Homo sapiens: one gene and its partners. The protein of the gene in region 1 purifies or fractionates together with the protein of each later gene. This does not show direct contact. Each region holds a gene or a part of one and is shown in the gene's direction. Other genes may lie near its edges. The genes, in order: PRDM11, GTF2H2C, LONRF3, NEK9 and ACP1.

Region 1 (6,100 bases):
ACACTTGGCTATTTTTTGTATTTTCAGTAGAGACTGGGGTCTCACCAGTTGGCCAGGCTGGTCTTGAACTCCCGACCTCAAGTGATCCACCTGCCTCAGTCTCCCAAAGTGTTGGGATTACAGGTATGAACTACCGGGCCTGGCCATGGGTACTTTCTTGTTTAAAATTGCAACCCACCCCAACACCCTCTCTCTGCTTCCTGCTTTTTTCTTTTTAGTGCATAGCACTTATCCCATGCCCCATGTTTTACTTTTTTATTTTGTTTTCTGTCTGCCTCCCATCATTTTAATGCAAGTTCCCAGAGAGCTGGGTTTTTTGTTACTTTTGTTCACTGCTGTATGAATAGTATATGCCATATGGTAACTAGAGCCTCAAATACTTGTGGAATGAGTGAATTAATTGAGCACTTACTGTGTTCAAAGTGCTTTATCTGCTTTGTCTTTTTAAATCTTCACAGCGATGCCCTGATCATGGTATTGTTATTTCCCCATTCTACAGTTTAGGAAACTGAGACTCAGAGAGGTAGCATCACTTGCCCACAGTTTCACAGTTGGTGATGAAATTCAAACTCAGGGCACCTGATTCCTGAGCCCTCCGGCCTAACCCGGATACTTGGCCTTGACTAGGCTGTAACAGGTCCTGACTGCTGTGCTGAGGAGTTTACAATCTGTCTGTTGGGCCACAGGGAGCCTCAGAGGGTTTTATGAGGAGGAAGCTGACATGGTGATCAGATCCATGTTCCGAAAAACAGCAGTGGCTTGGGCATAAGGCTGGAGGCAGGGAGGCCAAATAAGAGGCTTTCGTAGTAATTGAGGTAGGAGAGGATGAAGGTGAGAGCTGAGAGTGACCATTCCCAGGGAAAAGTAGGGGAATTTGGCCCTCTACAGCGAAGGTCAGAGCAGATGGGTTGGGGCTTGGTTCTGGAGGCCAGTTGTTTCCCCGAGTGTGCCTGACTTCTGCTTCTGAGTAGCGAGGGGACCCGCAGATAAAATCCAGCAAAGTGCCTTAGGCTGGTCCCTTGGCAGGGAAAGGGAACTGAGAAGGAGCCAGGGAGCCAGCTGGTGGGGTCCACACTGTTCCCTGGAGAGGGCGTGGGCCCCAGGTTCAGTCCTGCTTCTGGCACCAGATAGCGGTGAGATCTGAGCAGGAGGCTGTCCCTCTTGGAGTTACCCATTTTCTCATCTGCAGAACGGGGGCAATGCCACTACTGGCCTCCAAGGGCTGCATGGACAGCTCCGGAGAAAGACGGAGCACCAGTGAATGGCTTAGGGCCAGTCTTGGGCCATCTCCTGGGTGTGAGGCCAGTGGACATGGGGGAGGCATGGGGGTCCTCTCATGCCTCTTGCTGGCGATGGGACAGCAGTGCCTGAATACAAGACAATGAGCATATCTGCACTTAAAGGTGATCTGGCCACAGCCTCAGACACTCATGGTGCCCCACTGTCTTGTGTTCAAGGCCAAATATTTAACTGCGCCTCAGTTTCCTTTCTGTAAATGGACTCAGTAATATCAGTCCTGCCCTACATTCTGTGGAAGATTTTTTCCTCTGTGTTTGCAGGACTGAGTTTAAGGTGCTGTTATCTCTGGGGCAGTAAACACCTAGAAGGAACATGTATGGAGCACCAGGACACTGACAACAGCCCCGTGAGGTTACTCCCGCATCCACATATGGATGAGGAACCTTGGGGCTCAGAGAGGTTACATGACCAACTGAAGATCACACAGCTATCATCTCATTTTTCCAATCTTCTTAAGAAAACCACATTGATAAAGGAAGTCTTTGAGGTTGCCTATTTGTATTACATAATAATTCCCAGAAGGTTTCTTGGGTGATTTAAAAATAGGATTTGGGCTGGGCACAGTGGCTCATGCCTATAATCCCAGCACTTTGGGAGGCTGAGGTGGGAGGATCGCTTGAGTCCAGGAGTTTGAGACCAGCCTGGGCAACATAGTGAGACCCTGTATTTACAAAAAATGAACAAAATTACCTGGGCTTGGTGATGTGTGCCTGTAGTCCCAGCAACTTGGGAGGCTGAGGCGGGAAGATCACTGGACCCTGGGAGATCGAGGCTGTGATGAGCTGAGATCGCACCACTGTACTCCTGCCTGGGAGACAGAGTGAGACCCTGTCTCAAAAAATAATAAATCAATAAAAGTAGGATTTGATTTATAGAGTGTTGGTTTCAGACCTTCTCCCCATCCCAGGAACCTCACAGGTCAGAAGTTGCGGACACATTCAAACAGACCCGGAGCCTCCGCTGAAATGATACTGGGTACGGGAAGTGGAGTAGGGGTGGGGGCAGATAGCTGCTGCCCATCCTGCTCCCAAGCAGCAGCCTTAGATCAGGGGTTGGTGCTAGTGGTAGGGGGGTCCCTGCTTGCAAAGTGAGGCACCCCAGGCCTCTGGAGCCTTCAGTGCCTTCTAGAGCTTTCCCTTCCAGTCCTGTCTCCCCTACCTCATCCGATCCATAAGAGCAACCAGAACTCTCCTCCTCCCAACTGCACCTTCTCCCGATCCCTGATCACTAGCCCAGGCAGGTTGGCTCTTAAAACCCCCATTTTATAGCTCAGAAAACTGAGGCTCAGAGAGGGGAAGTGACTTAGAGCTCATACAGTTTAGGAAGTAACCAAGCTAACATTCTAACCCCAAATCTAGCACCCCTTCCTCTGCACCCCAGTCCTTCTGGAATCAGAGCAGAATGGGGACCCCAGAGAGTGTTGTTGTAGCCTCTGTACCCTGCTTCCCAAACAGAGAGATTGTCCAGCTACTGCAGGGAGTGTGGCTGGAAGGAGCTTGGGGTAGAAAGGGGGGTAGTGGCCGGTGGGCGCCTTCCCCCAGGCTTGTGTCAGAGTTGAGGGCGAGAGTGGGCCCAGCAGGCAGGAGGATCACTTTGACTAGGGCACTGAGCTGGGCTGGTATGGACGTCACTGAGCAAGTAAATATGGAACCGCCCCCACAATGTCAGCTTTCCCGGAGTGGCTTCTCCCACTATCTCTCACTTTCCCCAAGGGAAAGGGGTGAGGGCCAGGAAAGGATCTGGCTGCCCGATGCCAGGGGATGGAGATGGCCGGCTTGGGAGGCTCCACGATGGCCAAGGGGCATGGGGAGGAGCCCACCAGACCCTCAGCCCCAGAAGGAAGTGAGCTTCTCTTGGGAGCAGCCAACTGGGACCCAGCCAGGGCGGACTCAGCACCGTCATGGCCCAAGGTACAGAGAGGGCGGGCTCTGGGGGTTGCCGGGAGGTGGTTGGCTGGGGCTTGTCCCTGACCTCACAGCCCTTTACTGTTCCAACCCAAACAGAGTGTCATTTTCCCAGGGGCCAGGGGTGCCCCTCTTTAGGCCGGCTGTGTTCCAAGAGAAAGAAAGACCAGCCAGAGGGGGTTTGCATTTGGAGAGGGGGTGCAGGGGTGCCTCAAGGAGGGGTGGAGAGGGAGGAAGGAAAAGCCCCTTAGCCTGAGGGAGGCAGAGGGCAGGGAGGTGAAGTCCTCAAGGGAAATCAGCAAGCTTAGCAGCCAGGGAAACCGGCAGTCTCTCTTGACCCCAGAGAGGAGATATTGGGTCTCCAGAAGAGCAAGCAGAAAAGGAGGATCCAGGGCAGAGTGTCTGGCTGCCAGACCCTGGGCCTTTTATAAACATCAGCGACAGCCGAGCCCAAATGAGTGTGGACGGGCATGTTCCATTCAACCCTCATAGCTGTCCCATGATGCTAGTGTTATTAGGTGCAGTTTACAGAGGTAACATTGAGGCCCAGAGAAGTGAGGTGACTCACCTAAGGTCACACAGCTATGAAAGGCTGAGCCAGGATATGAACCTAGGTCTGTCTGATTCCAGAGTCTGAGCTCTTTATCACAGCATGGGACTGGCTTGCTGGGACTGCAGTGGGAGATAAGGTCAGCCATCCATGCTGGGCAGGAGTTTGGATGGCTAACTTACAGATTCCAAGTTCCTTCCCCTGAGATGATGGGCAGTGTAAAGAAAGTACAGCATATGAGCCACTGTGGCTCAGGCAGGTCACCCTCTCTGTGCCTTTATGCGGCCACTTGAAGAATGGGGATGCCTAGCATAAGGACCGGCCATGTTACAGCATTTTCAAACCTTCCCATCCATTGTCTGGGTCAGCAGATGTTCATGGAGCGGCCCCTTGTGCTCTGGGGTCCAGACGTACACACCTGACTCTTGATGGGCCCTGCACCAGGTTCCTCTTGGAACACTGGGAGCACAGTGGCTCTGCCAGGCAATGGAGACCGTGGTCCGCAGACCTCTGCCCATCCTGAGCTGTGCTGGATGGGTGTATGGTGAGAGACATGCAGACTTTGAGAGAAAGCCTTGAGAAACTTGTTTGGCAACTTGACATTGCCACATCATTTTTAATTTTATTTCACAAAAATATCTGTTGGCATCAGATTGGAAAACTTAAAAAGTAAAGAAGTCACTTCACCTCAAATTTCTTGAGCAGCTCTTGCCTGGGTCTTGGGATTGAAGGTAGGATGCGCCTGGCTTGCTCATGGATATGGGGCAGAGGAGAGCAAGTCATTTCGCCCTGGAGGTGGAGAGGGAGGATCTGGTTAGGCCTCCCAGAGGAGGTGACGATGAGCTGGACCTTGAGGGAGGAGCGGGGGTTTGCCAGGCGGAGGGAGAGGGAAGGGCATTTTAGGCACTGGGAACAGTATGTGCAAAGGCAGGAACAGGAGGACCCCATGGTTCAGGAATGGCAAGCGGTCATGGGTGTTTAGAGAAGCAGTGGAGTTGGCTGGGGAGAGGCAGGTGAGGGCCAGGCCGGGAGGGCCTTGAATGCTGTGTGAAGGAATTGAGACTTTGCCCTGGAGGCACGGGGGAGCTGTCGGTGGTTTGTAAGCAGGGGAGAGAAGTAGTTAGCTTTGCGCCACAGAAACTCTGTCCAGGTGGCAGTGGACTTGAGGTGGCCATGGCTGAGTAGGTGGCTTAGAGCAGTGGTCTCCAACCTTTGGGGCACAAGGGACCATTTCATGAAGGACAATTTTTCCATGGACGGGGTCGGGGAGGATGGTTTGGGGATGAAACTATTCCACTTCAGATCATCAACTGTTCCACCTCGGATCATCAGGCATTCGTTCAATTCTCAAAGGAGCACACTCCTAGAGCCCTCGCATGCGCAGTTCACGGTAGGGTTCGCGTCCTATGATAATCTAGTGCTGCCTGTGATCTGACAGGAGGCAGAGCTCAGGCGTTAATGCTTGCTAGCTCGCCTGCCACTCGTCTCCTGCTCTGCAACCTGGTTCCTAACAGGTTATGGATCAGTACCCATCCGTGGTCCAGGGGTTGGGGACCTACGCCTTAGAGGACCAAAGAGGCCATCCAGGTGTATGCTTCCTTTCCACCGCCAACCTCCCAGAAGGCTGTTCCTCGATTGTGTCTTGTGGAGTAGGTTGCTGATGCACAGGCCTCTCTTTGTCCCCTGAGTCGGTCCTGGCTGATGGGCAGGCAGCCCTCGGGTGTGAGCAGCATGGCCTTTCCAGGCTGGCCTGGTTGGTGGGGTCACACCTGGGGTCATGGGCTGGCCATGGCAGAACTCTCTTGTCCACACTGCCTGCCCTACTAGAGCTGCAGGAACGTGGACTGGTGGGCTGTCAAATGGGTGCTGGGTACAGTTTGGGGTACAGTCCAGAGCCGTGTTCAGGGAAAGCTGTCAGAAGGGAGGGCTGAAGTTTGAGCTGAGGTTGGGCCATTGCCCAGGCCCTGGGTACCTGGTCTCTGATGGCATGGGGTCTGTGCAGGAGGTGAGCAGTGGGCAGCAGGCTGAAGTGGCTTCCTGCATGGATCCTCTGATGGGCCAGGGCTGAGACCTGCCTCTGTGGCCTGAGGAGCAAACATCTGGTTGAGGTAGCGAGGGAAAAGTTAAAGTCATTCCCAACCCAGCCCAGTTCAAAGCAGACAGTGCAGTGTCAGGGAGTCGCTGGTCTTCAACTCTGTCACAGCCTCCTGTCCCTAGAGTAACTGACCTGCCCTGTCCCAGGGCTGCTGGGAACAGACCAAGGTGTGCCTGGGCCTGCATGTGGCCACAAGCCCACGGAGGCCCTGCCTGGGAAGGAACTGTTGGAAGCGCCTCTCCTGCCTGCCCC
Region 2 (4,866 bases), on another chromosome or scaffold:
CTTCTTTTCACTACAGGTTTATGTTTGTGCTGTGTGCCAAAATGTTTTCTGTGTGGACTGTGATGTTTTTGTTCATGATTCTCTACACTGTTGCCCTGGCTGTATTCATAAGATTCCAGCTCCTTCAGGTGTTTGATTCCAGCATGTAGTATACATTGTATGTGTTAAAAAGAAATTTGCAACTGTGAATAAAAGGACTTCTTTAGAAGAAGCTTCATTTAAAACATGAAAGGATAATCTGACTTAAGAAACTTTTTGCTAAGAAAAGGTAATATTTTATTAAATTTTAAATTTGTGTTGTCACAGAAATACCTGAAATTCAGTAGTACTTCATTCAATTAATTTTGTTTTCTATTATTTTGAGTTATACTGTTTTCAAAGTCATTATGCAGTATGTATAAACTTATAAGAATTAAATTGATGTGATAATTTTATGTTTTTATAATTAAATATAGAATCTTTATGATTTATGTTAATTCATTAATTTAGTGTAAGAAGAAAGTTAAGTCTGAATGTAAATTCAGTGTAAGATGAAAATTTATCAATACTTATGAAATTAGGCTGGGCGCTGTGGCTCACACCTGTAATCCCAACACTTTGGGAGGCTGAGGTGGGCAGATCACTTGAGGTCAGGAGTTCGAGACCAGCCTGGCCAACATGGTGAAACCCCGTCACTACTAAAAATACAAAAAATAATTAGCCGGGCATGGTGGTTCACGCCTGGAGTCCCAGCTACTTGGGAGGCTGAGGCAGGAGAATCGCTTGAACCCAGGAGGCGGAGGTTGCAGTGAGCCGAGATTGTGCCACTGCACTCCACCCTAGAGTAAGACTCCCTCTCAAAAAAAAAAAAAGTTATGAAATTAATACATATGAAATGATGTACTGCTACATCCACCAGAGAGGTCTTTTTAGGTTTAACCAAACATCTGGAATATGTTTATCAAGTTAGTACATCTGAAATTATTTGTGGCTATGACCAACAGAAGTCACTTTACATTAAACATTCAAACTCACAAGACTGCCATGGCCATACTTGGTACCCGCTTACTCAGAAGGATATTAAACAGAAACAACAGCCTGCCAGCACAGCATCAAGCAGTCCTCATTAGCAGTGGAAGTCCTTGTAGCAGTCCACTAGTACAATTTGGGTGCAAGGAGATAAGATCCTCCACAGGCATCAAGGAACCAATATCTCTTAACAATTCCATAAACACAGCTTCCAGGTATCCACAAGGGATGTGTCAATTTCAAGAGTCACTACACTCAGGAAAGCCTAAAGCTTGAAGACTCCATTTATTTATAGTGCATCCCAATCCAGATACGTAACAATTAACGAGTTATTTTTACTATAAGCAAAGTTGCCTAAAATCATAGTTGATACTAACCATGGTTAACAGAGCTCTAAAGTTTGACAGAAAGTGAGATTCAAATCCTTTCACTCTCATATGCTAAACCTTTTGCCTTACTCTGGGTCATCAGAGAAATTTAGGTGAGAATGTATGATGAAGTCTGTGTTTTAGATTCAATGCAGATATATCATTGTGGGCAGAACTCTTTCTGGTTATATCCAGTTAAGAGTAAATCAGGCTTTCAGCCGGGCGCGGTGGCTCACGCCTGTAATCCTAGCACTTTGGGAGGCCGAGGCGGGCAGATCACGAGGTCAGGAGATCGAGACCATCCTGGCTAACACGGTGAAACCCCGTCTCTACTAAACATACAAAAAATTAGCTGGGCCTGGTGGCGGGCGCCTGTAGTCCCAGCTATTCGGAAGGCTGGGGCAGGAGAATGGTGTGAACCCAGGAGGCGGAGCTTGCAGTGAACCGAGATCGCTCCACTGCACTCCAGCCTGGGCGACAGAGCTAGACTCTGTCTCAAGAAAAAAAAAAAAAAAAAAAAAAAAAAGAGTAAATCAGGCTTTCATAGCAAAGGTATGTCTATTTTATGTATATAAACTTCAGGTACTCTAACTTGAGTTTCACTATGAAATTTGTGATTTTTTTTTTTTTTTTTTTGAGATGGAGTCTTGCTCCATCGCCCAGGCTGGAGTGCAGTGGCCTGCTGTTGGCTCACTGCAACCTCCGCCTCCCAGGCTCAAGCCATTCTCCTGTCTCAGCCTCCTGAGTAGCTGGGACTACAGGCGCCTGCCACCACGCCTGGCTAATTTTTGCATTTTTGGTAGAGACGGGGTTTCACCTTGTTGATCAGGCTGATCTCCAACTCCTGACCTCAGGTCATCCACCCACCTCCGCCACCGTGCCCGGCCGAAATTTGTGATTTTATAACTAAGAATTTTTAGTTAAGAACATTATCAGTAAAGACAACGTAATCCCACCCTGGAGAGTTTATTGGGAGCCCAGGAATATTCATTTTTAATACACACACACACACACACACACACACACACACACACACACACTGATCAGAGTAACGGGAGTTTCTCTCAGGAGTCATACTCCATGAGCCTGGACCCAGTGGTTCTTTATGTGGAAACAAATTTCACCTATAGGTAACCTGGTAACTGCTATTTTCTTCTGTGTGCTCTGTCAACAAAGGTATCAGTGGCTTGCAGGAGATGCCTTTAATACTCAGAGCATTCTATCTCCCCCTATCTGGTTTAGAAGGAAGGCCTTCATTAGTTACCTTTTGAGAAGTTACTAGAACTCTCTATTAGAGACTTACCCTCCTGACCTGATAAAAAGGGATACCCATGTCTCTATTAACAGCTTTATCTCTTTCTACAGTTTTGGGTATTTGATAAGGTTAAGGCAAAATTTTAGTTATGCTTAAGGAGGAGTTCTTTTTTCACAATTACAGAGAAAATTTTGGTTTGTTGAAGATTGCAGAAACAGCAATGGTAATGTAAGACAGTTTTGGCCTTTAATTTTTTTCTTGAAACTCTACAGTATACTACAATAGTGAAGGAAACTATTATCATGAGAGATCCTTCTGAATAGGATGTCTTTCTGAGTTCCACTATTCAGTTACAAAACTCCTTAATGCTTAAAATTCATTATGAAAATTAGATTTATTTTAAATACTTTCAAGTGTATACATTTTTATTTCATAATTTTTATTGTCTTTTAACTAAAGCATTTAGTTCATTTATATTTACTGTGTACCTTTTATATTTAATAAATATATTTACTTATTAAAAGATTACCACTGATATATTTTATTATAAATATTATATTTATAAATATATTATTTATATTTATATTTATATATTTATATATATTTATATATAATATATATTTTAATATATTATATATTAAAATATATAAATATATATAATAAATATAAATATTTATTAAAAGATTACCACTGATATATTTGGGTTTAAGTCTATTATCTTTGTGTTATTGGTTCCAACAATTCCATCTTTCGTTTTTTTAAATTTTTTTAACTACATATTTGATACGATCTTTTCCTTCTTGCCTTCTTTTTGATTACTTACTTTCTACCATTCTATGTTTTTCGTCACTAGTTTGAAAATTGTATACTTTGTTTTTATTCTTTCAGTGGTTACCCTAGAAATTACAACAAACAAAAATTGCAACAACAATAAATTACAACAAGAAGAATTTTTTTTTTTTTTTTTGAGACAGAGTCTCGCTCTGTCGCCCAGGCTGGAGTGCAGTGGCGCGATCTCAGCTCACTGCAAGCTCCACCTCCCGGGTTCATGCCATTCTCCTGCCTCAGCCTCCCGAGTAGCTGGGACTGCAGGTGCCTGCCACCACGCCTGGCTAATTTTTTGTATTTTTACTGGAGACGGGGTTTCACTGTGTTAGCCAGGATGGTCTCGATCTCCTGACCTCATGATCCATCTGCCTTGGCCTCCCAAAGTGCTGGGATTACAGGCGTGAGCCACCACGCCTGGTCAACAACAAGAATTTCTTAACTTAGGTCCCCTAGGAAGTAGAACCTGAGGCAAAGATGAAAGTATTGTTACTTTATTAGGGAGGGACAGATCTAGGGGGGTGAGAGTGTGGAAGAAAAGGGAAAGCAAAGCAAGGAAAAACGTGATGCATTGTGTTACTGCAGTGACCAGGCTTCATGACAAGCTGTGACGAGATACAGGAGCCTTCCAGCAAGTGTGTTCACTTAGAGTGTGGGGCTTCTCCAGAAGGTTTATAAGGAGAAACTGCCCCTCTGAGCAGTCCATTGAAGGGAGGAAGGAGAAGTAACTTAGTTTCCTAAGTTCTTCCATTTCCCGTTGATCCTAGTTTGCCCACAGGGCTGTGTCATCTCGTCCTTTGGTAACTGCTCAGGAAGCCAGATCTCGTGCTCAGTGGTGTGGCATTGCATCTACTTCTAGAAGGATTTCTCAATACTTTATAACTTCCTCATGTTTCTGGTCATGTCTGTGTTCAGCTATATCTCTAGAACGGTTGGCCAATTCATAGCATGAAATGATTTCATGAGTGGTGACAAAGAAAGGGTGCAATCAGCCCTTGGGGAGTGGGTTAGTGGAATCCCAGTCCTGAGGCCATTAGTGGGTGGCAGAGTTTAGGAGAAAAGGTAAGAAGTTTCAGTCCTTGGGCCCTGTAGTAAGGAGAAAAAGGGTACAGGAGGTTGTCACACTTCTGAGAAGTAGTCTTAGAGTGCCCTAGTGCCTGCTTTGGATCCAGTTCTGTAAGGGCAGAGGATTCATTATTTCCAGGTAATTTAAGTATGTTCTGGGGAGAAGTGTTACAAGATGGACTGGGGACTCGGCTGGGATCCTGATGGGATCTAAATTATTGATTTCACCTGACTGAATTGCTATTTGCGTCACACCTCAGGACCCTGGAAACAATACACAATTTGCCCATTCATTAATTTATTAATTCACTCAACAAACTTGTACATCTGCCATAAGTCTGACAC
Region 3 (6,100 bases), on another chromosome or scaffold:
TGACCTGCTGAATCTGGAACTTTAGCCAGTGGAGCTTCACAATGTATGGGTTTTTTTGCTCCACACGTAACTGATATTTGAAGACCAATACAGTAAGTTTGCCTATGCAGAGATTAATGGGATTGTGTAACACAGTGATCCTCAATCTTGGCTGTACATTAAAACCACTGGGAGGCTTAAAAAAAATTTCTGATGCCTGTCCTGTACACTGGGCCTACTGATCTGAATCTCTGTAGGTGCTGTAGTGGGCATCTAGAGTTTTCATAGGCTCCCCAGGTGACTGGGGGAGGCAGGAAGGAGGGCTTACAAAGGGGCATGAGGAAACATTTGGGAGGGATGGGTATGTTTCCTATCTTGATTGTGGCGATGGTTTCATAAGTGTGTACATATGTCAGAACTTATCAAATTGTACACTTTACGTCTGTTCCATTTATTTTATGTCAATTTTGCATCAGTAAAGCTGTTTAAAGATAAAGCTGTTCAGGTGATTCTGATGCACAGCAATGGTTGAGAATTATTGTTGTAATAGAAAAGGCACATGACTGAAGTGGAAGTTGGATAGACTTTCATCTGTCAACAGTTGGCTGTGCGCACTTAGACAAGTAACTTCAACCCCTGTGGACCTCAGGTTCATTCTAGTTAGTGGGTTCAGTTTCTTCTCAAGTACTTTTCAGCTGGCATGTTGCTTCTTCTACTCAGTCTGGCAGTGCTGGCCAGGCTGCTGGTGCACCTCCTGGCCACACGAGGGAGCCGTGCAGCTGGCAGCCTCTGACTCTCCACTGAACACTCTTGTGAGGTGAAAATAGGCTGGTCAGGCAGGGGTCTTTCCCTTCTTCCTGTGCTGCTCCTCTTGGTGAGTGCAAGCCCCACTCCTCAACGGTCATCTTCAGCTACCCTCACTCACTGATCTCGCTGCAGGTGAGCCTTTTTTTAAGCAAAGCAAATCCATTAATTTCTGAAGGTACAGAACAAATTTATAAAAGGATTCCCACATTGCTTTGAAAATATCCTGTTCTCCCCAAGCAATTAAAATAGTACCAAATTGAAGTATATGTATGTATATATATGTATGTACACATGTAAATGTATGTATATATGTGTGTATATGCATCAATATAGATCCATATCTAGTCTATATCAGTAAGCACACTAACAATACTATTCTCCTGCCCCTATGAAAATTATCTATATAAAAGGCAGTTATGTTTGTTAGAGGTACAATTTTGATATCCTTCAGGCATTAACATTGCTTAGACGAAAAGAGGAATCAAGGTTAGCAAACGGTTTTTTTCCATGGTAATATGATGTAAAGTGCTTAAATGGGTAAATGTGTAAGAGAGAGAATGTGTGTGCGTGTGTGTGTGTTTGTGTGTGTGTGTTTACATATACTCAGGTGAACAGGTTGGCTAAATATTTTCGGAATGGAATTTATCCAGACACTCTGTGCATTAATCTCTATTTTTCTTGGACCAGACAGGGCAAAAAATCTGAATTCCCCAGAAGAGATAGACTAGAATTGATGTTACAAAATGATCTAGCTATGCCCTAAACTTTAATAAATGTATTTTAATCCAGCTCAAAAATGAAAGGCAAATGTTTATCTGAAGTATAACAATAGCGACTTTTTAAAAAGAACTCCTCCCCCACCCTAAAATATTCTAAATAATGCTTTAAAAACTTAGCTTTGAGTCACTCTTTTATTTTTGGTCTTATTGCAGTTTTCTTCCATTTTGATTCCTAAATTTCAGATTATTCTATGAGCCAGTCACAACACCTTGCGGGCATACTTTTTGCTTAAAATGCCTAGAAAGATGCCTAGATCACAACGCAAAGTGTCCATTGTGCAAAGACGGTCTTTCACAGGTAAATCAATATTTCTTTCTTGTTTGGTTTAAATCAGTATTTCTTTCTTGTTTTGTTTAGTTTATTTGGAATTGGGCACTAAGACAGTGTTCAACTGGACCCCCAGCCACGGCACTGTGGTAGGGCACATTACTCCCTCAAACCATCTATTTCTCCTGTCTTCTTTTTTTTTTTTTTTTTTTTTGACTGAGTCTCCACTCTCCCACCCAGGCTGGAGTGCAGTGGCGTGATCGCGGGTCACTGCAACCTCCGCCTCCTGGGTTCCAGCAGTTCTCCTGCCTCAGCCTCCCAAGTAGCTGGGATTACAGGCGCATGCCACCACGCTCGGCTAATTTTTGTTTTGTTTTGTTTTGTTTTGTTTTGTTTTGTTGAGACGGAGTCTCGCTCTGTCGCCCAGGCTGGAGGGCAGTGACGTGATCTCCACTCACTGCAAGCTCCGCCTCCCGGGTTCATGCCATTCTCCTGCCTCAGCCTCCCCGAGTAGCTGGGACTACAGGCGCCCGCCACCACGCCTGGCTAATTTTTTGTATTTTTAGTAGAGACGGGGTTTCACCGTGTTAACCAGGATGATCTGGATCTCCTGACCTCATGATCCACCCGCCTCGGCCTCCCAAAGTGCTGGGATTACAGGCGTGAGCCACCACGCCCGGCCTAATTTTTGTATTTTTAGTAGAAATGGGGTTTCACCATATTGGTCAGGCTGGTCTCGAACTCCTGACCTCAGGTGATCCACCCACCTCAGCCTCCCAAAGTGCTGGGATTACAGGCATGAGCCACCACGCCCAGCCTATTTCTCCTGTCTTATAGCCACTGTCCCCCTCTCCATAAAGTCCTTCAGGAAAATGAGGCAACATGCAGCTTTTTATGCAGTGTAAGTAGGGAAATTAATTTGTGTTGGAAACGAAAGTATTAAATAGATGATAAACTTGGATCCTGGTTCTAATGTCATCGTGGCACCTGATACACTGTAATCTTGAGTAAATCTTTTGTCCCCTCTAGGATTGGACTAGGTAAGCCCTGATGTTCCCTTATCATCAGTGTTTATTCTGTGGCTTGAAGATAACAGCTCCAAAGGCCCCAGAAGAACCTCACAGAACTTCAGTGTGATCCTTGTCCAACCCATCAGGAGCCACTGTACCTGGAAGCCCTAGAGCTTTTGCAGACCGCAGCCCTCTAGGACTTCCAGGTTCTCTAAAACTAATCACACAAACTCCCACCTTTGTTTTTCAAGTGAACCTGAAGGAATTTCCTACAGATAAAGAAGACCTGAGAATCTATCTTGTTTTCCCTCCCTCAGGGACTTATCTGCCACATTTTACAATCGGTGTTAATGTTCCTTGACCCCTGTCATTCCTGAGGAGAGGTTGGAGATGCAAGGCTATCTCTAGGTGACTACAGGTCAAGAGAAGTCACATGTTGAGCTTTACCATCACCCCAGTATTTAAATTAAGGGAATGGAGTGAAATCATCATCACTGGTAGCCCTGAGGGTATGCGTTGGGATTGGGAGGAGGGTCAATGTCATACCTTTCCCTGGATAAAGTTGTAGGATTTGCAGGCCTGATTGTAGGTGAGAAGTCCTTGATCCTTATACTGAAATAATACATCTGTGTTGTTGTAGCACTGGAAAATTCAGATTAAGTGGAAAGAAGAAAAATCTACCCATATGCTCAGTACCTAGAGAAAACCACTGTTAGTTAACATTTTAGTATGTGCCTTTTCTGGCTTTTTGTTTTAGTATCAGCAGAGGAGTCACCTACTTTTTAGACTGACTACCTCCTCAGTCAATGCTTATCCCCCACAACTGGGACTGGGAAATGCAGTTGATTTTCCCATAGCCAGGCAATGGCAGTGACAGTGGCAGATAAGGCATCCTGGAGACAGATGCTATAGAGTTCAGGACTTGGGGTCTAGAAGATATTCTCATCTATCTCTGTTTATTCACATAGGGTCACACTTGCACCATTTTACATAGAATTAAATATTCCAATCATTTTCACTGCAGAATAGAGACACAGCCCATACTGAGAAAGGAACAAAATTGTTTGAAGCCAACAGTTTTATACTCAGGCGCTCCCCCTGCTGGGACTGTAGGGGTAGTTTCCATAGCAAGCAATTCTCTGCAGATGTTTTAACATCAGTTGTTTGATTCACACCGTTAAATACCCACTACCTAAACATCCCTGGGTATGCATCGGACAGGGGTGTTTGGGAGGAGAGTAACAGTGACAATTGAGCCTGAGTCCAGTTCTTGAAATCATGACTTTTAATCTCAGTGATACCTAGATGGTATATTAGAAAGGCAAATAGACAAATCAATATTTAGCTGTTTGTGTTTTTTTAAACTAAAATTAAAAGAGAAAAAATAGGTATATTTGGCAATATCCAGAAGCCAAGCATTGGGTTAGGCTGGGAGTGGGACAGGGCAGGAAAGGTTCAGTGATTGAAAATTGCTTTTTAGTTCCCTGAAACTTTTGGCCACTAACTTTGAGCATATCCCAGATGGAGACAATTTCTGTGAGCTTGTAAATACAATCATCAGAAAATGGAAAGGGAAGAATTCCCCCCACCCTACTTTTTGGACAAGAACATGATCTTGATTTCAGTGTTTCAGAAAAACTGTGAGAGTTTTAAAACTTCAATGCAGGTTTTACCCCCTTGTTAAAAATTTTTTTCTAATTATAAAGATAATCAATTGCATGTGTGTTTTTTTAAATGAAACTAACATCCAGAAAATACATATATTATGATGGTAACAGCTGCTAATTTGTGGGTCCAGATTACTCCAATATGTGGGTCATTTGACTTGTTCACTGATTACATCAGAAGTGTTTTGCTGATTGCTACGTATTACCTAATTGCATATTGTCTAATTGCCTCCCCCCATGTAGTGCTTGGCATCAAGAAAATACAGCAAAAATGTAATAATGGAGGAGCTCATAGCTAAATTCCTTCCAGAAGAACTGAAGGAACGAAGGAAGCTTTATGAAGAGGAAATGGAAGAACTTTCTAAGTATGTATATGCATATTTCTGTTTTGTTTCACTCATACCAGCTCAATGAGAGCTGAATGTGCACATTACTTCCCAGCTTCCGACTTAGTGATGTCATGCTAGCTGCTTGAAATTGGCTATGGTGAGAGTATTTACACCATGGAAATTGGCAAGTGCTACAAACCAGGGTTTCCGCTGCACCCAGAGAGCCAGTTGTTAAACATACCAGCATACCACTGAAGAAGCATAAGCGAAACCAGTGATGAGGGTACGCCCTGCCCCCAGTAACAGGGTATTGTTGGCAAGAGTAAATTGGAGTAGCATAAACAGGGGAACTTAACGAAATGTCCAAAAGATTGTTTTCAGATACATAAGGAGTTGCTATGAGGTTAAGAACTTTGGTGTCAACCAGAACCGGGCTTAAGACCCAGTTCTACCTCAAAGTGAGTCTACTTCACGACCCTAGGCAGGTCATTTAACCTTTCTGGGCCTTAGTTTCCTTATCTGTAGCTTGAGAATAATTTAATAACTTGAGTTCTTACCTCATGGACTTCTTTTTTTGAGATTGAGTCTCACTCTGTCACCCAAGCTGGAGTGCAGTGGTACGATCTTGGCTTACTGCAACCTCCGCCTTCCGGGTTCAAGCGATTCTCCTGCCTCAGCCACCCGAGTAGCTGAGATTACAGGCATGCACCACCATGCCCAGCGAATTTTTGTATTTTTTAGTAGAGACAGGGCTTCACCATGTTTGCCAGGCTGGTCTTGAACTCCTGAACTCAAGTGATCCTCCCACCTGGGCCTCCCAAGGTGCTGGGATTACAGGCGTGAGCCACCATGCCTGGCCACCTCATGGACTTCTTATGAAAATCAAATGAGTTTGTGCATAGTAAGCACTTAATTAATGGTAATAATACTAATACTTGTCAAGCGCTTTCTCTGCCGTGCACAGGTAATGTGAGAGGTGAAGGGGAGGGGCAGAGGCGTCATTGAGGCTCTCAGCACTCTGCCTGGCTGTAAGAACAGCTCCCTTAGCAGAAAAAGCAGGAGGCAATCACTAATTTCTGCCTCTCTTGCTTCTGCCCTCTCCTCCCTCCATCCGCAGTAGAATCCTAACAGCATTCCAGAGGCAAGGTTCCTGACAGCAAAAATGGTTCTGGTTTCATGCCCACTGTGTAGAGAACATTCGTAAACTCTGCCAGTGGCTTGTTTGAATGCACTCCTCACTTAGACTAATGCTTTTCTCAGA
Region 4 (6,100 bases), on another chromosome or scaffold:
ACAGAGTTTTCCAGACAGAGAATATAGCATAAACAAAATCATAGACACAGGAAGTTGTGGAAAATATTCAGGAAACACAAAATTCTATTTGGCTAGATTAGTGGTTCTAGACCTGGGATTTTTGATGCAAAATATCAGGAGCTTTCAAAAAGTACTGATGCCTGAGCACTACTCTAGGAGCTCAGCTATAATTGATTTAGGTAGGATGACAGCCCTGGGCTAGAACGTGGGGTGCAAACAAAAGGAAGGAAGTCTGGAAAAATAGGTAGGAAATCTTGCATGCCAGGCCAAGAAAATTGTGGTTAATTCAAGAGGTAGTGCAAAAGATAGAGTGGGTATCACATCCACTGTTGAGAGATGGTGGATGTTTGCGAGAGGGCAGTTCACGTGATGAGAGGCATACCTAAGGAAGAGTTATTTGGCAATATTAGTATCTGTGTTAAATTAGTATAGTAAAATGATTAAGACTGTAGTAAGTGAGGCTGATTAGGAGGTATTATCACAGTACAGGTGGGAAGTAGAGCTACCCAGAACTAAGGTGGTGAGACTGGAAAGGAAGAGGTGAGTACAAAAAGTACTATATAGGTAGAATCTGTAGAACCTGAATATTAAAGAAAGGGAGAGAGATGAATCAGAGATGACTGAGGTTTTAAGCCCAGTTGACTGGGAGAATTGGGGAAGGGTGTTGCGGCTAGTTACAGAAATAGAGGAGTCAGAAAGAAAAGCTCATTTGGGAAAAAGCTAACAAGCTCATATTTGGAGATACTGAGTTTGGGAGTCAGTGGGCAGACTAGATGAAGGTGTCCATCAGATACTAAATATGTACATCAGAGGTTCTCAAGGCTCTCTGTTCCAGCCTGGACCATTTCTCAGAGACAGAAAGCAAATGGCCCCAAACTGCTGGCCTTTGGGTATTTAATGAATTGTCTAATGAAAGGACTATATAACTGTTTTGAGTTGTATTGAGGTACTTTGCTAAAAGTATTGTGATGTTGTAGGATGCATACAGTTTATAAGAGGATTAAATCTGTGAAATGTATTAAACAGACACCTTTGCAATATAAAAACCTATTATTTCACTCATGTATCTTTGCTTTTCTTTTGGTAGAGAGATGGAGGAAAAAGTCACTCTGCTTAATGCACCTACAAAGAGACCAAGGTAATGTTCAAGAGACTCTTAAAAACTAATATATCCGAAATTACAACCAGGGGGTTCTTTCTTGAGTGTAGGCATTATTTGATCCGAGGATACTTTGGCATCCTTTCAGGAGCCAGCATCTGCTTAAATGTCAGACAGTCATTTCTAAGAAGAAAGCTATAATTTCACCCTCACACTAAAGTGGCCATCATTACCATGATGAATGTGGAAAAGTGTAGGTGTTATGGGTCAGACTGGAATCTGATCTGGCCAAGCTGTGATGAAGCCCTGAGGCAGGAATTGCAAAGTCTGCTGTGATAGAGCACATTGAAACAAGTTGTCGAGAAAGAACATACTTTCTCATACCATAATTGGCAGTTCTTCTCAGGGAACAGACTGGAAGCATTTTTCTTTGATATTGTTTTTAATGTTAAATGTTCCTTTGTTCTGGGGGTTGTTGGCAGGTCAAGCACTGTGACTGAAGCACCCATTGCTGTAGTAACATCACGAACCAGTGAAGTCTATGTTTGGGGTGGTGGAAAATCCACCCCCCAGAAACTGGATGTTATCAAGAGTGGCTGTAGTGCCCGGCAGGTCTGTGCAGGGAATACCCACTTTGCTGTGGTCACAGTGGAGAAGGAACTGTACACTTGGGTGGTAAGTGAACGCTAAGCATTTTGGAACAGTGCTGTAAGCCTAATTGTTTACTGGGCCCACGATGTCTAAGCATTTTATTAGTTGAACCTATACTAAGGGAGTGGCAACATGGGGTGATGGAATGGAAGCTCTTATAAGAGCAGGGATTTTGTCTGTTTAGTTCACTGATGTATGCCCAGGGCTGGTACATATTAGGTCACCTATAAATGTTTTTTGAATGAATGAATGAGAGAGGGAGAGAAAAATTGAAAGACTCAGGAGACTGGGGTTTCCCATTTACAGCTGGATGATTTCAGACAAGTCACTCAATTACTCTGTTATATTACCATGAGGTTCAGAGCAACTATTACCTGTGAAATAGCTTTGTAAACAAAGGAAGGACTATACCATGTCAGGAAACCCCTGAAGCCCACAGCAGTGATTGAAGATGGCTAGGTATATTTTGTGTAGAATTTGTTTGTTGCCCTCTAGATTCTCCCCTCTCACCTTCCTTAACAAATTGTCTGTGTTTGCTGTCTGTTTCCTTATCTCCCACTCTCTCTTCATTCACCTACAATGCAGCTTCCATCTCTGCCACTGCCACTCAATTGAAACTAGTCTTGACAAAATGACCCATAAATTGCTAAAATAAAACAGATGCTTTTTAGTCCTTACCTAGCTTGACCTCTCGGCAGCATTTGACATAGTTGACCACTCCCTCCTTCTTGAAGCTTTGTCTTTACTTGCCTTCTGTGATAGCATGTTCTCTTGGCTTTCCTCCTGTCTCTTGCTATGCGTTCTCAGGCTCATTTCAGGCTGCTGGAGAGAAATTAGTATCTTAAACATTTATTGGCTGGGCGTAGTGGCTCACAACTGAAGTCTCAGCACTTCGGGAGGCCAAGGCGAGTGGATTGTTTGAGGCCAGGAGTTTGAGACCAGCCTGGCAAACATGACAAAACCCCATCTCTACTAAAAATACAAAAGTTAGCTGAGAGTGGTGGCGCATGCCTGTGATTCCAGCTACTCAGGAGGCTGAGGCATGAGAATCACTTGAGCCTGGGAGGTGGAGATTGCAATGAACCAAGATTGCACCACTGCACTGCAGCCTGAGTGACAGAGCAAGACCTTGTCTCAAAAAAAAAAATATATATATATACTGTCACACACACACACACACACACACACACACACGCACACGCACACACATATATATATAAAATATGAGGACTTGTAGTATACTCATTTAATAGAATTATTTTTCTCTATAAAACTGTTGAAAAGGCCAGACATGGTGGCTTACACCTGTAATCTCAAAACTTTGGGAGGCCGAGGCGAGTGGATCACCTGAGGTCAGGAGTTCGAGACCAGCCTGGCCAACATGGCAAAACCCCATCTTTACTAAACATACAAAAAATTAGCCAGGCGTGGTGGCGGGCACCTGTAATCCCTGCTACTTGGGAGGCTGAGGCAGGAGAATCGCTTGAACCCAGGAGGCAGAGCTTGCAGTGAGCTGAGATCGAGCCACTGCGCTCCAGCCTGGGTGACAAGAGCGAAACTCTGTCTCAAAAAAAAAAAAAAAAGTTGAAAAGTCATCAAGGACTAGTCTCATTGCTGTATAGCAGCCTCTTTGATGTAGCCAGATTCTTTATAACTCTTCCATGTTTCAGGGAAACTGTGACCAAAATTTATGAAACTTCTAGTACAGATTTTCAAGAAGCTATATTCCTGTAGAAAGCAACAAAGTTAGACTATATTATAAAGAATTTTTTTCACCATCACCTGTAATTAAATATATAGTTTACCTTAGACTTGAAGGACAAAGATTAGATTAATGGATATTAATCTGGATACTTTTTAAGTTTTCTTTACCTGTTGGCAGGATCTGTATACTACTTGCTATTAAAATGTTTAATCCCTTTGCCCATTTTTTTCTAATTTCTAAATTTCTAGCTCTTTTTTTCTACTGTTTTTCTTCATATGAAGTTCCATTAAAGATCAGCTTTTGGCATGAAAAATTAAAACTTCATAAGACCTCTCAGCCGGGGATGGTGGTTCATGTCTACAATCCCAGCACTTTGGGAAGCCGAGGCAGGAGGATCACTTGAGCCCAGGAGTTCAAGACCAGCTTGGGCAACATAGCGAGAACCCATCTCTTTAAAATTTAAGTTTAATAAAATGTAATTAAAAAAAAAAGTCATAAGACCTCTTTATTTCACAGAACATGCAAGGAGGCACTAAACTCCATGGTCAGCTGGGCCATGGAGACAAAGCCTCCTATCGACAGCCAAAGCATGTGGAAAAGTTGCAAGGCAAAGCTATCCGTCAGGTGTCATGTGGTGATGATTTCACTGTCTGTGTGACTGGTAAGCCATCAGCAGAAAGTGTCTTAAGTGCATTTAATGTGGGGGTATTTTGCTTAATGCTGTGCAATCTTAGTTGGGATTTTAAAACAAAAGACAGTATACAAAGAACCAGAGGACCTTGAGCAAATATACTCATTAATAATAACATACCAAATTTGCTATAGTATTAGGGGGTGGTGAGCAAGGAGAAGACAGGTGGGTAACAGAGAAGAGGTGGGATCAGGAGAAAATGTGTGTCGTGGTTGGCAGGAAAAATAATCTTACCACCTCATCAGGCTATGAATAACACAAAATTAGGATCAAGACCTAAGTTTAGTTTTGGTCTTGTCATTACTTAGTTAATGATTCCTTGGGACTTATTTTTTTATCTATATAACAAAGATGGCCCCATTAAAATTTTAAGTCCTTTTAATGTGATAATGCTACCACTTTTTAAATTGTTTAATATAGTAGTAGTAGTACACATGACTCTCTGACATAGAACTCTAGACTTGCACAGTCTGTCCTTTTAATTTCTTGGATATAATCAATTCATGTGAGATCATTTGCTGGGGTAGTCCTCATTCCAGCCCTGCCCAACTTTCTGATTAGATAAAATAAGTCAGTCCTTTGATGGATTCTGTTTTCCTTTCTTTTGCAGATGAGGGTCAGCTCTATGCCTTCGGATCAGATTATTATGGCTGCATGGGGGTGGACAAAGTTGCTGGCCCTGAAGTGCTAGAACCCATGCAGCTGAACTTCTTCCTCAGCAATCCAGTGGAGCAGGTCTCCTGTGGAGATAATCATGTGGTGGTTCTGACACGAAACAAGGAAGTCTATTCTTGGGGCTGTGGCGAATATGGTAGGGGTAGCCTTGTCTCTGTCCACTTCTTCACAGGTATACAACCTGACTTCAAAGTTGTATGCATCTAAACCCATCATGCAGCCCCTAAATGAGAAGTGTTAATTCAGTAAATCTTTTTTTTTTTTTTTTTTTTTTTTCTCGAGACAGAGTCTCTCTCTGTCACCCAGGCTGGAGTGCAATGGCATGATCTGGGCTCATTGCAACCACCACCTCCCGAGTTCGAGTGATTCTCCTGCCTCAGCCTCCCGAGTAGCTGGGATTACAGGCACACACCATCACACCCAGCTAATTTTTTGTATTTTTAGTAGAGATGGGGTTTCACCACACTGGCCAGGCTTGTCTCGCTCGAACTTCTGACCTCATGATCCACCTGCCTCGGCCTCCCAAAGTGCTGGGATTACAGGTGTGAGCCACCGCACCTGGCAAAAGAGAATCTTACAGAACCTATTCACTGGGAAGGAAGCCCTCATTATAATGATTTTCATTCTTATGTGTGTTTCAGGACGACTGGGTTTGGATTCAGAAGAGGATTATTATACACCACAAAAGGTAAAATCAGAAGCAACTTATTTCTAAAACCTATCTTAAGTCGCACAGACTCCAATAATATGTCCTCTTTCCTTGGCTCTGTTGTATCAAGGTATTTATTTCCGAAGTGTTTCCTGTTTGGGAGACTGACAATTTAGGATTCCTGATTTAGCACCCTGTGGTCTTGTCATCTGACCAAATCACAGAAAATTGAGAAAGTGGATACAGCGACTGTGGACATTGTGAAGTCACATCTTACTCAGGGATGACAGCTAAAATCAGCGTGTACAGCAGAAAAGTCACATATAGCTACAAATACCCTGGAAAACTCGAGAAGATACTGTAAAGCAGTATACTGTCTCTTAACCCAACACAGCCATTTTCCTCTCCTGTTTCTACAGTTGACCACCAGATGAAATATTAATAGTTGTTTTTGTTTAGCGGTCATGTTGCATGAAACATATTATCTAATTACTCTCAGCCTTGCCAGAGCTGGCCCTGTGAGAGGCTCACAGAGGCTGATACCAGCTGGGGGAAAAGCACAGTCACATCTCTCCCACCTACCCTAGGGCACAGGCTTACCCATTGGAG
Region 5 (6,100 bases), on another chromosome or scaffold:
TGAACCAGCTCCTGAGTCTACTGAGGGACAGACCACTGTATTTTATTTTTATTCTGTTGTATTTCATTTTAAAATAAGCTGGTTGCAACCCACTTCATTTTCGTGATTCACTCCTGGATCATTAGTAGCAACTCTTTAAACAATAATTTTTGTTGAAATTGTTTTTCTGATATCTTTGTCATCTGTACTTGGAGTACTTGGCTGGTTGGTGTCAAATCACTGAACTTGAGCCTGATAGGCTGTTCTCCAGCAGGGTCTACCCTCACTGGTTGGACAAAGGCGTCAAAGGATAGTGTTGGCCTTTGTTTTTCCTGAGGGATAGCACAGCCCCCGTGTGTCAGGTGTGTAAAGAAGGGGAGCTGGCATGTGCCCTTCCATCCAACCTAACCCTGTTTCCCCACCCCTCCCTTTTTTTAAAGGTAACATTTGTCGATCACCCATTGCAGAAGCAGTTTTCAGGAAACTTGTAACCGATCAAAACATCTCAGAGAATGTAAGTACCATTCATTATCTTAAAGAGGCCAACCTGAACTCCTCTGGGCAGGAAATTGCAAAAAAAAAAAAAAAATTCCATGTTTCTTCCCCTGCAGTGGAGGGTAGACAGCGCGGCAACTTCCGGGTATGAGATAGGGAACCCCCCTGACTACCGAGGGCAGAGCTGCATGAAGAGGCACGGCATTCCCATGAGCCACGTTGCCCGGCAGGTACCGTCCTTGGACTTGAAGTTGTGTGTTTTGTGTTTCAGTGGGTCATTGACAGCGGTGCTGTTTCTGACTGGAACGTGGGCCGGTCCCCAGACCCAAGAGCTGTGAGCTGCCTAAGAAATCATGGCATTCACACAGCCCATAAAGCAAGACAGGTAGACAAGCTCTTGTTCAATTTCTAATATATAGAGTCCAGTAACTTGAGAAGTAGCGAAAGGATTAACCAGACTTGTATATTAATGAATGTGTTTATTTAGGGTGAGCTTAACCAGCTATGGTGTGTCCATTTTGTTTCACTTCTGGTTGCACGGTGTTGAAAGACTTGCCTGACTTTGGAATTTACTTATTAAAATGCACATAAAAGCTAGGTAATTTATAATGAGAGAGCCTGACTGTGAGCTGGGGCTGAGCGGTGCTCTGTCTTCTGTTCCTTCCTGCATAATTTTTATTAAACATTTAGGCCATAGTAATCATCCTGCTGATATTGCAAGTTTGTTGCTAGAATGAGGTTATATAATATATACAAAAACATTTTTTCAACTGTAAAGTGCCTTAGTAATATAGGGTAATACCAGCAACATTATGGATATATAATTATAGTCTATTGGGCCACACTTAAGTTTGGAGTCTAATAAAGTCACAATCAAATTCTGCAATTTCAATTGAAGATAACCTTGTCTTTATATTATGAATTAGAAGCTAAAGTTGATTTTTCTAAGAGTTCTTTATTTAAATGAAGTACTCTGGGACTGACCTTTTCGGAAATGGAATCTTCATTGGTCAGGTGATTCAACATTTTTATACAATTTATCCATCCTCATCTCTTCAGGATTTGCATACCTTGCCAGTTTCTACTGGCCATTGTTGAAAATACATTTATTTGGAGAAGTCCAAAGCCAAGGGGCTCATGGGGCTGTGAAGTCCTTCTTGCTGCATCGTCCTGTGGTAGAAGGTGGAGGAGTCAAGAGAGTGCCCCAGAGTGAGTGAGAGCGAGAACTAGAAAAACGGGAAGAGGGAAACAGAGGAGAGAGAGAGAGAGGACCCATCAGTGTCAGGAGCCCACTCCCAAGATAGTGGCATTAATAAAGATCCTGCGTCTCACTATTGTTGCATTGGGGATGAAGTTTCCAACAAAGGAACTTTGGGGGACACATCCAAACCATAACATAGGATTTAAATAATTTTACAGAGTTCAAGAGTTCTGCTACTGAACCGTTTGAGATCCCTGTTCTGAGGTCTCATCACTTTCCAGTTTTAGCAGGAAGAGAAGTGGCAAGTGGCAGGAGTCTGCAGATTGGGGCCTGCACCTTTTTTTGAGGCACCTTTTTTATGAACAGTGTTTGTTGGAACACAGCCAGACTCACTCATTCACCTGTAGTTCGCGGCTGCTTTTGTGCTAGAGCAGCACAGCCAGAGCGGCCTGGTGGCCACAAAGCCCGACTGTCTCTGCAGCACTGGTTTTTTATATGGCGTTTCTAGTTGTTTTTAGTAGTAGGGGTGATTTGCCACAAGCTGTTTCATTTATAGCTGCAAGTGGAAATCCTTTATTGTGCATTTGTTACATAAGTTATAGCTGTTTCTTTCTCAATTATTGTAACATCTAAAAATTATGTAACAGTTACTAAGTCTTTTTTTATGAAAAATTTACAATTAGTCCAGAATTTAAAACAAGTTTAGTATTAAATCCTAGGGAATTTCTCACATAACTAATTTGGAGAAATAATATAATACTGTTCAGGCATGGTGGCTCACACTTATAATCCTAATAACACTTTGGGAGGCTCAACATTGCTTGAGCCTAGGAGGTCAAGACCAGCCTGAGCAACATAGTGAGACCCATCTCTACCAAAAAAATTTTAAAAATTAGCTGGGTGCTATGACATATGCCTGTAGTCCCAGCTGTTTGGGAGGCTGAGGTAGGAGGTTGGCTTGAACTCAAGAAGTTGAGGCTGCAGTGAGCTATGATCACACCACTGTACCCCAGTGTTGGTGACAGAGTGAGACCTTTTCTCTAAAAACAAAAAGAAAAAATTCAGTATTGTACTTATTCTCAATTTTGAAATAAGTCAATGTCATGGGAGTGTTGACGAAATACAGTCTTTTCTAGCTACTGGAAGTGCATACTAAAAGCCAAAGTTTCTCATTTTTTAGAAGAACAGGTATACACTTTCCACCTTTGTTCCGCAGTACGTATGTTTATGTTTCTTATTCTGCCATTATTTATAGTAGTCGAAATTCACAAAATAATCTTTTCATTTGTATTTTAAGTAGGTGTGTTTATAGATTATATCAGAAAACAATCATAAGCTTTCAGGTTACAATCAGTAGAAATACTGAGTGGCATTCTCTTCTGTGTGAGGTTTAAATTATGGATAGTCAATCAAAATAAAGGAGGACTGTCAGTTATCACTCCTGTGTTTCTTTCTTAGTGACCACCTCTGACCACCCAACTTAATACTTTTACTCCTCCCTGCCCCAAAGCTGTATGTATCTCCTCTCTGCTTTATTTCCTCCAGGGCATCTGTGCCTCCTGTGTGTTGCCTGCCCCCATGTGGAAGGGCAGCTCCATGGGACGCGGCTCTGTCCACTTAGCTTGGTGTTTGTTACTGGGGCCCAGGATGTTCAGTGCTTGTGGAATGAAAAATAGAGTAGAATAATGAAGGGGATTAAATATGTGACATTTTAGTATGTTGACTGTATTATACACTGCTACTAAGGAATTGAAGCCGATGTATAAACATTGTGTCTACACATTATACTATTTTATGATTATTGTATGGAACTTTATAATACAAAATTTCTTTGCAGTACAATTTTGAGAAATAGGTTAACTCTATTTTAACTTAAAAGTACCCTAAAAATTATTTAATTGTTTATTAGTGAGTAACAGGCTCAAATACAGCAGTTTTTTTTTTCTTTTAGTATTGCTTTGCATCCTCTAGGCTTGAATGGTATAAACACTGTGTTTTGACTTCTTATTCAATTTTAGATTACCAAAGAAGATTTTGCCACATTTGATTATATACTATGTATGGATGAAAGCAATCTGAGGTAATCCTGTTTTTGAAGAATATTTCTGTTCAACTCTCAGTTCAGCAGTGGGCCAAGTAATTTGTTGTCCAGATTTACTTTTTCTATTTTAAAGGTTTTAATAGTCAGTGATGGTCACCATATGTAGAATTATTTTATTTAGAACAGCAAAAAACTTAGTAATCTAGAATTGTCTCTTAGGTATTTACAAGGAAATACACCTTAGAAAAGGGAAAGTCTAGTTGTTAATAGCATGATTTAATTGGAAAACTAGCTTGGCTGTTATAGTTTTGTATCAAGCATATTGTTCTGCATGAGAACGATTTTGATATTTTTGCTGTAATGATTCCTGGGCAGGGCAGTGTTTTATTGATTCTCAGGTCAAAGCTCTGCAACCATAGGTTCCTATTATTATCCCATCTTGTAAAAGAAGGAAGTGAGAAACGGTAATGTTAGGTTATGTCCCCGAGTTCACACAGCTAGCATGTGGTGGATGTCATGGGATTTAAGCCTAGGCTCAGTGAGGAAGGGCCCTGCTGTATGCACCCCTGCCTCAGTCACCACCCTCCTGACCTGCCCCAGTCCCATGTTCAAGGCGTCATCGGGAACGGATCATAATTTAATGTCACTCCAGGATTCTGACTTGCATCACTACTTATTCATAAATATCTCATGTTTTTGATGAAGATAAACTATTTGTGCTTTTAATTACTTTTGTACAAATGAACAGATAGGGATGCACCAGTTTCAATTATTTTTTATTAATTAGGACCTTCATTAAAATGCATGTATTTTTTAATTTTTATTTTTCAGTCCTTATTCTGTTCTCATTGTTTTTGCTGACACCATAGCCCATAGGCATCGTAAAAACACCTTTTTAGGAGACCCCATTTGCTTTGACTGGCACTGAGCACCGTGTTTCTTTGCGTGTGGGGCAAGTGGAGTTCCTGCAGCCTCACATTTGCACGTGCTGTTCCTCTGCCTGGAAGCTCCTCCTTGCTTCTTGGGTCATTCGGCTCCTATTTGCCCCTCGTGGGTCAGCTTAAATTCATTTCTTGATAGAGGTATTCTGCTGCCCTGTCATTAGGCCAGATTGTGCATTAGACTTAGGCCTGCCTGCAGTTCTCATTCCTGCACCTAATCCTGAGCTGTAAAACTTCGTGCATGGGAGCTCTTGGCTGTTCCGTTCCCACATAAAGCACGTACCTGACTCATCAACTCATCTGTCGCAGGTGCTCAGTCGAAATTTGTTAAATAAATGGAGGCGCTTAGTTAAGTTTGCCTTTTTCTTTTGTAGCAATGTGAAAGCTAAGGGTGGAAGTCTAGAGTGAAGCTGAGTTTTCAGCTTGGGCAGAGGCTTAAGGAATAAAAGATGGAAGAGTAATTAAGGAGTGGGTCGTGCTGTGGGAAGTGCTGTGTCAAGACACCTGAGGATGGAATTGGTAGCCCTCTGTTTTGGGACTGGTTCAGATGGTGTTTTGGGTTCCTTTCTATGACCTTTATCTCTGAAACTTGATTGTCTTAAAATGTATTTTGTGGGAGAAAATATAATTATTGTATATTTTGTGTAACAGAATCAGTGAGAATAAGCTGCTGTCGCAAACTGTCTTGCCTAGAGAGAGGGCAGTGGCATACAGCTGCAGAAGGGGCCACACGGGCCTGCTGAGTGTTCCGTTTCATTTCAAATTAGGTCATTCTGTCTTGATTTTGATATGGATGTTTCAGAACACCCTAGCAGATGTCCCTGTTTAACTTGAAACCATAGATCAGAAAACTAAGTTCATATTTCAATTTTACAGAGATTTGAATAGAAAAAGTAATCAAGTTAAAACCTGCAAAGCTAAAATTGAACTACTTGGGAGCTATGATCCACAAAAACAACTTATTATTGAAGATCCCTATTATGTAAGTACAGTTCACGTTTTAGGGCTAATATGAAGACCCAACACATTTGTATCCTGCCATATTAAATAACAGATGAGATTGTGTTAAGGATGTTTTTGTTATGCAGGTTTTGCCATTTTCTTCTTTTTCCTGTCCATTTAGGGGAATGACTCTGACTTTGAGACGGTGTACCAGCAGTGTGTCAGGTGCTGCAGAGCGTTCTTGGAGAAGGCCCACTGAGGCAGGTTCGTGCCCTGCTGCGGCCAGCCTGACTAGACCCCACCCTGAGGTCCTGCATTTCTCAGTCGGTGTGTAATCACGTTCCAGGGCCCAAAGCCCAGCTCTTTGTTCAGTTGACTTACTGTTTCTTACCTTAAAAAGTAATTGTAGATGGAAATCAGTTGTGTTTGGCAGGAGAATCAATAAAAATCTTTGATTCAGACAGCTTATGGGGTATTTTAAGCATTCTTAGACTAGTTGAA

Evidence for each region.
Region 2: the proteins of PRDM11 (region 1) and GTF2H2C purify together in Homo sapiens (affinity purification with mass spectrometry; one large-scale study listed by BioGRID and IntAct). This does not show direct contact.
Region 3: the proteins of PRDM11 (region 1) and LONRF3 purify together in Homo sapiens (affinity purification with mass spectrometry; one large-scale study listed by BioGRID and IntAct). This does not show direct contact.
Region 4: the proteins of PRDM11 (region 1) and NEK9 purify together in Homo sapiens (affinity purification with mass spectrometry; one large-scale study listed by BioGRID and IntAct). This does not show direct contact.
Region 5: the proteins of PRDM11 (region 1) and ACP1 purify together in Homo sapiens (affinity purification with mass spectrometry; one large-scale study listed by BioGRID and IntAct). This does not show direct contact.

The regions. Positions count from the first base shown.
Region 1 is NC_000011.10:45,152,222-45,158,321, forward strand, and holds part of PRDM11 (PR domain-containing protein 11), read left to right. Parts: intron 1-6,100.
Region 2 is NC_000005.10:69,592,063-69,596,928, forward strand, and holds the end of GTF2H2C (general transcription factor IIH subunit 2-like protein), read left to right. Parts: intron 1-16; coding exon 17-136; coding exon of another isoform or gene 137-149; 3' UTR 150-3,159; downstream 3,160-4,866. UniProt on the Homo sapiens protein: Component of the core-TFIIH basal transcription factor involved in nucleotide excision repair (NER) of DNA and, when complexed to CAK, in RNA transcription by RNA polymerase II.
Region 3 is NC_000023.11:119,004,373-119,010,472, forward strand, and holds part of LONRF3 (LON peptidase N-terminal domain and RING finger protein 3), read left to right. Parts: intron 1-1,748; coding exon 1,749-1,863; intron 1,864-4,753; coding exon 4,754-4,875; intron 4,876-6,100.
Region 4 is NC_000014.9:75,105,380-75,111,479, reverse strand, and holds part of NEK9 (serine/threonine-protein kinase Nek9), read left to right. Parts: intron 1-1,108; coding exon 1,109-1,159; intron 1,160-1,602; coding exon 1,603-1,795; intron 1,796-3,992; coding exon 3,993-4,137; intron 4,138-4,777; coding exon 4,778-4,978; coding exon of another isoform or gene 4,979-5,014; intron 5,015-5,483; coding exon 5,484-5,530; intron 5,531-6,100.
Region 5 is NC_000002.12:271,447-277,546, forward strand, and holds part of ACP1 (low molecular weight phosphotyrosine protein phosphatase), read left to right. Parts: intron 1-419; coding exon 420-493; intron 494-590; coding exon 591-704; coding exon of another isoform or gene 705-859; exon of another isoform or gene 860-1,035; intron 1,036-3,693; coding exon 3,694-3,755; intron 3,756-5,533; coding exon 5,534-5,639; intron 5,640-5,780; coding exon 5,781-5,858; 3' UTR 5,859-6,100. UniProt on the Homo sapiens protein: Acts on tyrosine phosphorylated proteins, low-MW aryl phosphates and natural and synthetic acyl phosphates with differences in substrate specificity between isoform 1 and isoform 2.